Linked DNA regions of Homo sapiens. The protein of the gene in region 2 interacts with the protein of the main gene of each other region in a pairwise test. Each region holds a gene or a part of one and is shown on either strand. Other genes may lie near its edges.

What was found. Proteins that work in one complex are often made in the same cells at the same time.
Region 1: the proteins of SNTG2 (region 2) and MIPOL1 interact in binary tests that used the Homo sapiens proteins (3 or more experiments, as listed by UniProt).

What each region holds. Positions count from the first base shown.
Region 1 is NC_000014.9:37,263,927-37,270,960, forward strand, and holds part of MIPOL1 (mirror-image polydactyly gene 1 protein), read left to right. Parts: intron 1-1,280; exon of another isoform or gene 1,281-1,355; intron 1,356-3,011; coding exon 3,012-3,243; intron 3,244-4,731; coding exon 4,732-4,867; intron 4,868-6,493; coding exon 6,494-6,599; intron 6,600-7,034.
Region 2 is NC_000002.12:946,797-953,854, forward strand, and holds the start of SNTG2 (gamma-2-syntrophin), read left to right. Parts: upstream 1-4,052; 5' UTR 4,053-4,200; coding exon 4,201-4,272; intron 4,273-4,488; exon of another isoform or gene 4,489-4,596; intron 4,597-7,058. UniProt on the Homo sapiens protein: Adapter protein that binds to and probably organizes the subcellular localization of a variety of proteins. May link various receptors to the actin cytoskeleton and the dystrophin glycoprotein complex.

The DNA.
Region 1 (7,034 bases), on a different chromosome or scaffold from region 2:
TATCTTTTAAATTGACTAATATGCAAAACAGACCAATAGCTTCACTTTAATGGCATTTTATTGGCTTGTGTTTATATTTCTGTATGCAGTTCTTTTTAAAGTGATGGGGCAATACAAATAAGCTCAGCTAAAGCTCTTAGTAGCTTCGTCTCATTATTGCTTCATAAAGATCCTTCTCCTGGGCTGGAGAGTTTAGGGAAAATAACTGAAGTCTGAACTTAGAGTTACTAACTGCTTTCATCTTCTCTTGGTTAGAAAAGGTACTAATTCAGAAATAAATTTGGGCTATGAATAAGGTAAAGAAAATTAGGCAAAATGCAAGATGATAGAGCAGTATCTTAAAATTTGTCTTGAAAAGTCAAAGTGTTTCATGCCTGTTGCTTACTCACTAATGTTTCAGAAAAAAAAAAATTGTAAGGTCAGGCATGGTGGCTTATGCCTGTAATCCCAATACTTTGGGAGGCAGAGGCAGGAGGATTGCTTGAGCCCAGGAGTTTGAGACCAGCCTGGGCAACATGGCAAGACCCCATCTCTGAAAAAAAAAAAATTAGTGAGGCATGGCAACACAGCACACAGCTGTAGTCTCAACTATTCGGGGGGCTGAGTTGGGAAAATTGCTTAAGCCCGGGAGGTCAAGGCTGCAGCGAGCCATGATTGTGCTACTGCACTCCAACGTGGGTGACGGAGCGAAACCCTCTCAAAAAAAAAAATTGTGTAGATAGTTATAGAAAGAATGGTTAATAAAGCAAGCATGATAAAATGTTAATATTTGGGGAGTCTAGGTAAAGGGCATACAGTAATTCTTTGTTTTGCAACTTTCTTATGAGACAAATTATTTCAAAATGAAAAGGTACAAATGAAGGATTATCTAATGTCAGTTTTTGTCGGCTTTCTCATTTAGCTTGCTTCTGCAGTCATTGAAATCTTTGATGTTTGGCTCTCATTTCTTCTCTCCATTTTCTGCCATTTTTCTGGATGACTTCAATGCCTTCAAAGGTGGTACTTTCAGCACTTTGACTTTTTGATTTTCTCCACTCCAAGTATGTTCACTTTTAATTTATTTCATCAACTCATTTCCAGATGAGCCATACCTTGGACTTTGTCCTTAATACTGATTTTAGAAATTTTCTTCCGACTATAACATCTTGTCATTTCAATACAAGAAATGTCTCTTCATTTTTCCTAAATTTATTTCTTCTCCTCTATATCTATTCCTATTCTTCCTATTTTTATAGTCTATTAACTTTTTATTTCATCTAACTCTGGCTATCCTTTGGCAGTTTGCTACTTCGCATATCCCTACTTGACCTTTTTTGGAGCAAATGCCTTTGTGAAGTCTTCCTAGAGTCTTCCAGGTGAGCATTAGTATGTCTAGCATATTGTATGTATTTGGCCTCCATAGCCCAAGCATAGTCCTTATTATACTGTATTCAGATCATTAGATGAGTTTGCCATCCTCACTGTACTAGAGAGTCTTTGAGTGGAGTGTTTGTTTCTTATTCATCTTTGTTTTCCCAGTAGCTACCACAAGACATACCACACTGTAAGTTTTCAATGAACGATCAGTAAATTAATGAATAAATAAATTAGAAGAGTCAAACTTTTTATACAAATGTTTGAATACTAATATAGTGTAACGCAGGATGGCAGAGAGGAGAGCATTGAAAGCCTTCAGAGGATTTAACATTGATTTGCTGGAATCATACTTGCCAAAATAGTTGGTCAAAAAAACAAGACAGGCAGGAAAATTTTTATAAGTCAGCCATGTGTATTCTAAAGTAAAATTAAATTCTCAGACTGGGAGTCTGAGGTGGGAGGATTGCTTAAACCCAGGAGTTTGAGGCCAGCCTGGGCAACACTGCAAGATCCTGACCTAAAACATTTTTTTTAAATAAATTTTCAGTAGAAGAGTATGGATAGTCTGATTTGCAGAGCAGGCTCCAAATTTCTGATGAGCCTTTTGAAATAGAAATCTGAAAGCTTTTACTACTGAACAAAATGAGAAATATCCAGAAATAGAGCCATGTCACACAGTATGGGTTCTTTAAAAATATTAAACATTTATAATTAAATTTTAGAATGGAAGTCTGGAGTGTGTCAGAAATTGATGGATTTATTGTAATAAAACTTCAAGGGGTTATAATTACTAAGACCCAGGAGGGATCAACACAGAGTCTTCTTATTAGGAAGCTCTTATTGGGAAGCTTCTGCATCTCCTCTAAGATTGAAGAAGATAGTGTGGTCACAAGTTAAATAGTGGTAATTTATCAAGAGTTCAGGGGATCACAAAATTTCACATTAGGTTAAAGCCAAAGAAAGAGAACTATAAAACTAGTAAACAACCATTTACATTTGACAGTTTTAGGAACAGATACATCTGAAGATTACTTGTTCATTCTTGACAGCTCAAAATGCTTACTTGGTTTGCATTAGATGGTCACCATGCTAGTTTTCTGTAATAGGCTGGCATTAGTATAATGAAACTCTTAAAATCTGAATGACAAAAGTTTATAAACGGGCACTAAGGAAAGCCTCTATATCATTAACAGACCATGCTTTCTAACACTAACATAACATTGTAAGTAACTCAAATGAAAAGCAATCAGAAATAGTTACTGAAAGCATTATCAAAATAACAAACATTGCCCCTAGGGACATATTTTTAAAAAACTCTTAGGCCCCACATTCTTCAGTTTATGAAGTGCCATATTTCTTCAAAAGGAAAAAGGATGGTCCATGGACCACTGCCAACTATAAAAGCCCCCAGGTCCCCATGACAGCCCCACAACTGCTTCAGACTCTTAAGTCCCAACTCTTTTTGGCCTATTTGAGACCAAATTTACCATTATCTACAACTTATCCCAATGCTTATCTGATTACAGTAGGAGTAAGACTAGAAACTATATGTTTAAAGCTAAAGAGTGTTTCCAAAAATATTTATTTGACTGAATGATTTAATATGCAGTTATGGTGTTTAATATATCATGTGTTATTTGTTTGTTTAAATACAGACATAACCCACAGTTATCTTGAACAAGAAACTACGGGGATAAATAAAAGTACGCAGCCAGATGAGCAACTGACTATGAATTCTGAGAAAAGTATGCATCGGAAATCCACTGAATTAGTTAATGAAATAACATGTGAGAACACAGAATGGCCAGGGCAGAGATCAACGAATTTTCAGATCATCAGTTCTTATCCAGATGATGAGTCTGTTTACTGCACTACTGAAAAATACAAGTAAGTGCTCACAGCCTTAGATTTAGAAGGAATTGGGGCCAGGCGTGGTGGCTCATGCCTGTAATCTCAGCACTTTGGGAGGACGAGGTGGGTGGATCACTTGAGGTCAGGAGTTCGAGACCAGCCTGGCCAACATGGTGAAACCCTGTCTCTACTGAAAATACAAAAATCAGCCAGGTGTGGTGGCACATGCCTGTAATCCCAGCTACTCAGGAGGCTGAGTCATGAGAATCGCTTGAACCTGGGAGGCGGAGGTTGCAGTGAGCTGAGATTGTGCCACTGTACTCCAGCCTAGGCAACAGAGCAAGATTGTCTGAAGAAAAAAAAAAAAAGAGAAAGTTAGAATTGGAAGAACTTTTTCTCCCTCCCTTCTTCCCTTTCTTCCTCTTTCCTTCTTTCTTTTTGGTGTTGGCTAATTCTAAACTTATTAGAACTTGGCGAATCTACCAGGGTTTTCTACTGTTTCCATGGTATGGATATAATATGTCTAGTTAACTAAGTGAAAAAGCACAAAGTGCATCTGAAGAAAGACAGGTTTAATTCTATTTTATTCAATATTATTTTCTGTGACCTTTCTTTATGTATTTGGAAATAACTGTTAAATTGATATACATGACATATCATTCATGAAAGTAAAAAACTGGCAGCTCCAGGACAAGGTAAGCCCAAACATGCATTTTGGTTTGGGTTAGCGCTATTTTTCATTTAAATGAATTTGATGCTTTTAAAAGGGCCTTGTTCTCTACCATTTGCATTCCTCATTATTTTACTTTCTCAGCTTTTACCCAGTAACCTTGCCTACCTAGCTCATGAAAGGATTTGAATTTGTGATACCTGATACTTCTACCCATGAGATTAAGGAACTTTGATAATTAGTCATGTGCTAGAAAAATATTATTAGATTTAAAAAGAAGTTTCAGTGACTAATATATTTTCAGTCTAGACAAAATAATATTTTGCAGCATACTATTTTTAACAGATTTTTGCATAGGAACTTTTATTCTACTTTCAAATTATTCAGTAGATATGTTAATAGATAGTAACATATAATGAAATAGATGTATTGATATGTTCCCATCCCTTTTTCAGATTCTTACTAAGGTGTAGGTTGGAGTCCCTTTTGAGGAGTAGAAGCACAGAAGAATGAAGTAGGGATAAACATTTTATAACCACATGGGTAAAGTAAATAGTAGAGATTGGGCTAAAGTCAGATTATGAGATATCTAGCATAATTACAACAGGAGATGTACGTGGTAAATAGAGCTGCACTGACTGTCCCAGCCGTCACTAAATTTCTTCTTAGTGACTCCAAAATTTACCTGTGCTTACAAATTTAATATAAGGCCTTCAAAAAAACAGCCCATCTCTTTTCCTTTCCCTTCCTTTATGGTGTTTGCTTACAAGTTGATACTGTTCTCAAGTAGCATACAAAATGTCAAAAAATTAGTTTATCTTACTCTGAAATGTTAATCAGTTTCTTTATTACAGCGTTATGGAACATAGACATAATGATATGCATTATGAATGTATGACTCCTTGTCAAGTTACTTCAGACTCAGATAAAGAGAAGACAATAGCATTTCTTCTAAAAGAATTGGATATTCTCAGAACAAGCAATAAAAAGGTATAATATGGAAAGTCTGATAATTGTATAGTATGGGTTTAGCTGTTGATCTTCTAAATTTCCTTTGTTGCCCATCATAATTCAGTTTTATTTTGCACTTTAATCATTTAACAGTAGCTTTATGTTTTTGCCATACCTTGCCATCAGGGTATGGTTGAGTTAAGGGGTTGAAAATGAAAGCATTTTTTTGATTTCATACCTTGCTGGTCCACATTAGCACTTCCTTTTTCATAAGCCCCTGGTTCCTTGTATACATATCTTTAAAAAAAAAGATTCAAGTTTTAGTAAAACTCTGCTTCAGTATTATAGAGAATGGGAGATAGAATGCACTGGTTTCATGTTACTATCTTAATTTTTTTTTCTTTATTAGTATCCATGCCCTATATTTGACCTCAATAATACATGTAATTAAACATTTCAGTAGCAAGGCTTGGCAATATTGTCATTTACCTTGTGTTAATCTTATACTGCTGCATTTTGTCCAGTCCAATTTGTCACGTTATGTTTTATCTTCTGTTCTGACTCTTATTCTAGTTATAGTCATGTGATCATTAAATAATTTTATTAAATAATGTGCATTTTCTGTGTCTTCTTTTTTTTTTAACCTCTACATACTGCTCTGATTTTAATATTCTAGTTGTGTAACCTAATCAAACTGAAGCATGATGTTAGGAATGTTGATCATGTTTGGAGGAAAACAACTAAAATGACAAAAACCTAGGGAGGAATTAAAAAAACATGTGGAGGGATTCTGTATGAGATGTTTTCTGTACTTTCATTTAGCAGTTATTTATTACATGCCACTTATGAGTCAGGTGTCAGTGTCAATTTAAATGGAATATGATGGGGTAGTATTCTCAAAGGGAGATTTGTATCAGATATTAAGATTATTGTCTTAATTTTGTTTCAGAATATTGGATTTACTAAGATAAACTGTAAAGCAGTGCTATCTGTTATTTTATTAGGCAAATCCCTTCCAAATATTTTGCATTAAGAAAAAAGGATGAATGAGACTGCTTTTGCAGTAGTCATTATTATTATTATTTTTTTTGAGATGGAGTTTCACTCTTGTTGCCCAGGCTGGAGTTCAATGGCGCGATCTCAGCCCACTGCAATCTCCGCCTCCTGGGTTCAAGCAATTCTCCTGCCTCAGCCTCTCGAGTAGCTGGGATTACAGGTGCCCGCCACCACACCTAGCTAATTTTTTGTATTTTTAGTAGAGACGGGGTTTCATCATGTTGGCCAGGCTGGTCTCAAACTCCTGACCTCAGGTGATCTGCCCACCTCGGCCTCCCAAAGGGCTGGGATTACAGGCGTGAGCAACCACATCTGAACTGCAGTAGTTATTTTTAAGAATAATGTTGGTCCTCTGAATTTAATTTGCCTGTTCATGCACATATACACATAAATTAAGTGTATATTGGGATGTTTTTACAATTTCTGTATAACTACAGGTAATTATTACTTTATAAATAACTTAAATTTTAAATTTTTTTCTGGAGTTATCTATCTAGGAAGTTAAATATAATATAAGAATTAAGAAAAAACCAAAAACTTTGAAATTAATTATATTTTTGCAAGACATTTGTCAAATAAGAATCCATGATTTTTTTCAATGTGCTTTAGCTTCAGCAGAAATTGGCTAAAGAAGATAAAGAACAGAGAAAACTAAAGTTTAAGCTGGAACTCCAAGAGAAAGAAACAGAAGCTAAAATTGCTGAAAAGACAGCAGGTATAGTAGAGGAGTATTAACACATGGCTTGAAGAATCACACACAAGGTTATTATATGATGTATCTTGGTGAATACTAGCATACTGGCTTATTTGCCAAAGGAGGGGAAGCTCTCCTTTTTTTTTTTTTTTTTTTGGCTGCTTAGAAAATAGGTGGCTTTAACATCCTGGTACTGGTATTAGTGAGAGCTTTACCTGTATTCATACTGATTTGGGCATTAAATGCATTGTTAACACCATGTCAATCCAATCACAAAAAGGTTGTTTGTTTTGTTGGAAGGGGCTGAACAAACAAGGGGAAATAATGATTACCAGTGCCTCTACCTTTCAACCAGCAGTTCAAATACCACTTATTGTTTTAGCTCGTTGAGAGGAAATACTTCTCCTTTGTATGAAGATAGTCACATATTCATTGCCAATGGAAACCTACATTTGA
Region 2 (7,058 bases):
AATGGTAACCAAGTGTGAAACAGGAAGGTAATAGGTCTTCCTTGCAGAAATAAGACTATGCCTGGAGGGGGAATAGGTTCAGTTAGCAAATCAAGCAATATAAAGGATGTTCCCACAAGGCTGTCAGTCCAGAAAGTATTTTAAGTTAATTCGAAAATGAAACCCAGCTGCGCATGGTGGCTCACGCCTGTAATCCCAGCACTTTGGGAGGCTGAGGCAGGCGGATCACCTGAGGTCTGGAATTTGAGACCAGCCTGGCCAACATGATGAAACCCTATCTCTACTAAAAATACAAAAAAATCAGCCTGGCGTGGTAGTGGGCGCCTGTAATCACAGCTAATCAGAAGGCTGAGGCAGGAGAATTGTTTCAACCAGCGAGGTAGAGCTTGCAGTGAGCCGAGATCGCGCCACTGCACTCCAGCCTAGGCGACAAGAGTGAGACTCTATCTCAAAATAAATAAATAAAATAAAAAATAAAAATAAAAATAAAAATAAAAATAAAAAAGAAATCATGCTAGTTTTGCTATCACATTTCAAACTGCAAACGTTACGGCTGCAGTGAGTGATAAGTGCCTATTTAAGACGGAAAAGACGCTGAACTTGTAGGTAGAAGACATGAGCGGAAAGGTGTTCCCACCGAGGGCACGTCAGCGCAGAAAGCACAATCCCATGGGAAGACTTCAGCAGTCAGTCCCCCAAAGTGAGTGACACTGAGCCATTCATGGCAAGTGAGGCATAGCTACACTGATTTAGGAGTGGGCTTGTCACGAAACCAAAAACCAAAAACCAAAAAACTGGAGAGGCTGTGTTTGCCAGTGAAGAAGCTGCTGCCATATTTCCGGCAGAGTTGAAGTTGATTAAAGGGAAAGGATGCCATCCAAAGCAAGTCTTCAATTGCAGTGAGACCAGGCTCCTCTGGAAGAAGATACCCAACAGAACCTACGTTCTTGAAAGGGCAAAGAAGGCCCCAGGGCATAAAACACTGAAGGGCTGATTTACCCTGTGCCGTGTGCAATGCTGTAGGACGTGTGGCCAAGCCAGGTGTGCTGCACACACAGAGGAACACTTATGCTCAAAAAACAAACGTTACCTGCTTGTGTTCAGGCAACATAACCAGAAAGCATGAGTGGTAACCACCATGTTTATGGAAGGGCTCCACCAGTACTTCCTCCCAAAGCCTTGGAAGGGGGAAGGTTGGAATATAAAGTCTCATTAGTAACAGACAATGTACCTGGCCATTCTGAATATGTTGACTATAAAAATGACAAGGCCAAGGTTGTATTATTATTAAGACCGGGTCTCACTCTGTCGCCCAAGCTGGAGCGCAGTGGCATGATCTCGGCTCAATGCAACCTCCGCCTCCAGGGTTCAAGGGATTCTCCAGCCTCAGCATCCCTAGTAGCTGGGACCACAGGTGCATGCCACCATGCCTGGCTAATTTTTGTATTTTTTTGTAGAGACGCGGTTTTACCATGTTGCCCAGGCTGGTCTCAAACACCTGAGCTCAAAGCAATCTACCTGCCTTGGCCTCCCGAATTGCTGGGATTACAGGTGTGAAGCACTGTGCCCGGCCTCAAGGTTGTATTTTTACCTTGAAATACAACCTCATTGCTCCTGCCTTTTGACCAGGGCATCTTCCAGTTTGTCTAGGCCACATACATCAGTTTGGTCAGCAATTGATGCATACATATATATGCATATATATATATATATATATATGCATGCAATTGATACATATATATATGCATGCAATTGATACATATATATACACACATACATAGTTCAGTACTATCCACGGTATCAGGCAGCCACTGGGGGTCTTGGAACATACCCATGAGGATGAGGGGTTACTGGAGTTTTTTGTACTACATTTAGAAAGTTTCTGTAAATTCAGAATTATTTCAAAGTTAAAAGTTAATAAAGAGACACTAACTGCAACTGGTTTTAGACACATCTCAGAATCAAAGCTATACTCATCACAAAAACCAGAAAGTTGAATTTTGGTAACCTCATGGGGGACATTCCCTCGCAGAGTTTCAGGATAGTCAGGGTTTTACTTTTTATTGTTATTGTTATTGCAGTAGAACCCTAGTATTTAAAATAAGCAAAATAACCCTTACGTGCAGTCCTGACACAGATGCATAAAAGCAGATAGGCAGTTAAAACTTGAATTAATTAGCCTTTCAAAAGCAGCCCCAGAGCGCCTACGACGTCCTGGAATCACAAAATTTTATTATAGAAAGGATTCCAGAGATTGTTAGCCAAAACTACATTATTTTACAAATGAATTAACAATTACCTTTGGTCTGAAAAACAAAAATATATGTGTCTATTCATTTAACGATAAAATTTTAACAAAAACTTGTCTCTCAAAGTCAACATTTATGCATGCAACACGCTGTTTTTCCTTCTTCAGGCCCTGGAATAGAATGTCCCTTTGCAAGGTAATGAGACAATATCTTTGTGCTATTTGTAGACATTTAATTTCTCAGAGATTATATGCACGCTCTTTTAAAAATGCAATTTAAAGGCAAACAATAATCTCTTGTACTTTTTCTTATTCTAGGTTTTGCTACAAATAAAAAGTAATACAATATTTTTTACCAATTCACCCAAGAAGCATATTTTGTAACAGCCACTGTGCCACGTATAAAAAGACCTGGTTTTTGCTATTCAAGAGCTTGTCCTCTGGTTAAACTGAGTGCTAAGAAGTGCTGGCAGACTGCCGTGAAGGTGAAACAGGAATACAGAGAATAGAGAAATGGGGAAGGGCGTCTGTGTTCGAAACCCAGGTCTGCTCAGGGGTCAAGCAAGTCGGAGTCAGAAAAAGTAAAGTGTTTAACATCGAGTTTTCAATATTTATTTGTTTACAATGCGTCACATTCTGCTCCTAGATAGGGTTAACCTCTGAAGACCTCAGATTTCGCTGCTTTTCCTTGCCGTGGAGAGGGAATAAAACGGGCATCGTGGCCTCCGCGATGGGCGCTCGTGCCTGGGTCGAAGGACTGGGGGGCGGAGGATTTGGAAAGGGAGAAAAATACGGGCTGGCTTCTTTTTAAAAAATGTGGGTAGCCTTGCCTGCCCCCGCCGCACTGGAATTTATCCTAAACTTACTTTCATTTACATTAAAACAAGACGATTTGAGTCTACCAAACCCAATACTGCATCTGTGAGGCTCCTTTTGGCACAAACCTGAATGAACAGCGGGAAACGCCGTCTCCCCTGGCGTCTGAGATCTGGGGTCCCCTCCCCACCTGGTCTCCTCGCTCCCGCCCCAGCCCCGTGCGCCCCAGGAGGGCACCGCCGAGCGCCGGGTCCCCGCAGGGTTCGGGAGACTCCGCGGACCGGAGGAGGGATAGGACCCCCGAGCTTTGGGGGCGGGAAGGGAGGGTGGAAGGAGGAGGGGAGCGGGGTTGGGGAAAGTTGGAGCTTCGGTATCTTTTCTCCGGGCCAGGCCGTCCTCGGGGCCCTGCGCTGCGTCTCCAAGTGCTGGGAAGACTCCGCGGGGAAAGGTCTGAGGACGCGGCCGGCTGGCACAGGTGTGGCGGCTTCAGAGGGCCGGGGAGAACCCATGGCTTCGAGGCTGTGGACTAGAAATGTCCCTGATTAGAAGCTGAGAACCTTTGGCCAGGGAGGTGGGGCGGCGGGGAGGGGTCGTCAAGCCGGTCCAGAGCGCGCCCACCTGCGCCACAAGGGAGAAGAGGTGCCCCCCGCCCCCCTCCGCCCACCGCCGCCACGATGCGCCGCGGACCTCGGCGACCCAGCCCGGGTAGAAGCGCGCGCTCCCCTCCTCCAGCCTCGTGCGCCGGCCCCTGCCCCGCCAGCCCCGCTATGGTCCCCCATCCACCCCCGCGGGAGCGCCCCTGTCCCCCCATCCTGCACTTCCCCCAGAGTCGCGCGCCAGTTTCCCGCCCCGTGGAAGCGCCCCTCTCCCGACTTCGGCTGATCCCCGCTCGCCGCCCTCCCCGCGGGTGCGCGCCCGGCCCCTCCCTCGCCCGGGGCGGGTCTGCGTGGGCGGTGCTCCGGGTCGGCGGGCGGAGCTCCGGTTCCCCAGCCCTGCGCCCCGGTGGAGCCCGAGCCGGAGCCGGCAGAGGGGCGCGGGCGCGGACGCGGCGCCTGGCGGGGCCCTGGGAGGCTCGGACGGGGTCCTGGCGTTGAGCTCGGCCGGCCCGGAGCGCGGACCCAGCCGCAGGGGCGGCGATGGGCACCGAGGGACCCCCGCCCCCGGCCGCCTCCCGCGGACGCCAGGGCTGCCTGCTGGTACCTGCGCGGGTGAGTGCGGCCCCTCAGCGCCCCTTCACCTCCGGCCCCCCTTCCCTCTCCTTCGCGCCCTTCTCCCCCCGCCCCTCCTCCCTCCACGCCCCCTCGCTCCCCGCGACCCCTTCCCTGTCTCCGGGGACGGCTGGCCGGAGGGTGGGCGCCGGAGCCCCGGGACGCAGTGGGCACCCGCCCCCTGGCCGCTCTGCTCCCTCCAGCCCAGTGTCTTACTGGAAACTTGCAGGCTTTGCTCCTCCAGCGTCTTCCAAGGTTTGGTTTTGAGGCGCCCGGGCTTCCCTTTACTGCGTGGGAAGTAGTGCTTTCCAGAATTTGGGATTTGAGATTGGCCCGGCATTGCTTCCCAGGAGCGGCTCTTTCGGGCCCAGGCGGTGGCTCGGACCGGAGCGTCCCCCCTGCAGCCTTCGGGCGCCCAGGCCAGGTCTGAGTTGGCCAGTTTGAGCCCAGCCAGGTGCATGGCGCGGCCTCGGCAGGTGCTGGGGGCTCTAGGCCATTCGGGGAACCGCTGGGACGCCAACTGGGTAATACGGATTTCTTTTTTGAAGTCTATTCTGGTTCCCACCCTAAATAACTCCCTCTTCACCTTCTTATTTTTAAATAACTAAACTATTGATTGACAGAAAACAGAAATGTTGGCCCAAAGAAAAACGAAAAGTTCTTGGAAACCTTCAAGTTGCCACCCACAGCACAGCCTCGAGTTGTGAAAACAGTTTAAGGGAGCACGTGGCCACCCCAGCCCTAGGAGGCTGCCGAGAAGCGCGGCTGTTAATGAAAATGCATTGACAACCACTCCTTTAGGATTCCTTCCCCAGGAGCTCCCAGTCCCAGGAGCGACCAGGAATACAGTTAGCCCTCCCTTATAGGACAGTGGAGAGACGGTTCAGAAGGCCACGGGTTGAGGGCTGCTACAAATTCCTATCGTCATAATAATGATTCTAAACTAGGACTGTGGTCGTCGCTACTGTGATGTTAAAAAGATTTCTATGTAGAGACAGGTGCATCTTCATTCAAGTAGCACCTTTCTGGGCTTTTACTACAAAATATGAAAATTAAATTTCATGTAAAATGTGGGTGTTCGTTTCTTGAAGTACTTTGTAATATGAATAGCTATCCCACTGTTGCCCATGGTAATCAAACCCGAGAAAATATGCGGGGATTACCTGGAAATAAACCGCAGTAAAAACTGCAGGCGCTGTGGAATCACAGGCTTTCCGTCTGGTCACTGCCTTCAGCTTTATAATGATGCCCTCCCACGGTTAGGGATTGTGCATTTTTCTCCAGACATTCGAGCAAAGCAATTCTTGCTTTTAATCATTGTAATTATAGCGGAAGCGTTGAAGTGGATTCATCATACTTCATGATTGACCCACTTGATGAGTTATTGGCAATAACGTCAACAAATAAAGCAACTGCGCGTATTCTAGTAAATGCTCTCCTTTGCGCTCAGTATTAATTAAGGTGCTAAATTTGATGTTTTCCAGTCAAGAGTGGCCTCTGCTCACCTGTTTGCTACAAGATGTGATTGGCGCTTTCTTTCTAATAAGGACCTTGATTATTTGAAACAGCCTGTCTGAATTGTATTGAAAGAAACTTTTTTTTTAGCGTTGGAGGCCAAGTATTACAATAAGATGGAGCATTTTAAGAGCAAGACTCCTAACTTTGCAGTCATAAGTAATTAGGTATGTGCTAAGCCTACCTTAGACACCAGTGCATGGTCATGTTAGCTCAGATTCTTATGTATTTAAAACGAATCTGTTAAGTATTGGTGTTGGCAGGTTTGTCTTGAAAACATGAATGTTCTTAGTATACAATGTCATCCTTACTTAATGGCAGAATTATTTTCTTACCATAACTGCACAATATTATTCAACTTGTGTAATTATTTAATCATTTCAGTTAAGAGAACTTGGTGCTTTTAACTAGAAAAAGATGAAAGTCTTTTCTAAATCTTATATTTCTAGTTATATTTTTTCTATCTGAAGTCAAAACTATACACATTCTTTATCATGACTGCTTGTTTGAATCATGGAATTTGGCCACGTTTGAAGGTCTCCTGTTCGGTAACAGACCTGTTTTGTTTCCCCTTTCAAGTGCCTGTTCCCGATGTTTTTTTCTAAGTTAAGTGAGTTCATGGAGCTCTGTCTCTGACCATACCTGGATTTGAGGGGTAAAATCCCACTGGCAGACAACCTCAGTACAATGTGCGAAGTGTGTCTTGCTTGTAGCTTCAAAGACTACTATTGGTTGATGTTTACAGCACATTTGCTGCTTTTAAATGACAACACTTCTTCAGTCTGGGGCGCTGGAAGAATTATTGGCATGAGCCGGGAACATGCCCATTTATGTGATGAGCTTGCCCACTGAAGGGGGAAAGCACGTTAGGTCATTTTAAAGGTGCATGTGGGGTAAGGGCACCACCTAATCATCTGTTTACAGATGTGAATTGCTGCATGAGATGAATGAAGCATCTGAGCTCCTAAGAAGGTTCCCCATTCCTTCTATGCTTTGGTTATGTTTCTCATCCTTGCTGACTCATCTTTAATTTCAACTGTAGAATTTCTATTGACGTCTATGACATCATAAGCAAAATCCATGCATTACAAAGCAGGCAGTTACCTGACTTTACCAGGAGACATGGAGACATGTTCCCCAGTAAATATTTGAATGAGGTCCAATTAAGAAAAGTGTGCCTTGTTTTTGTTTTTGTTTTTTTCCAACATGGGATGTTAAAATTGCCTTGTTTTCTGAATGGTGTATGTGGAGCAACAGCTTCTTGTCTCTGG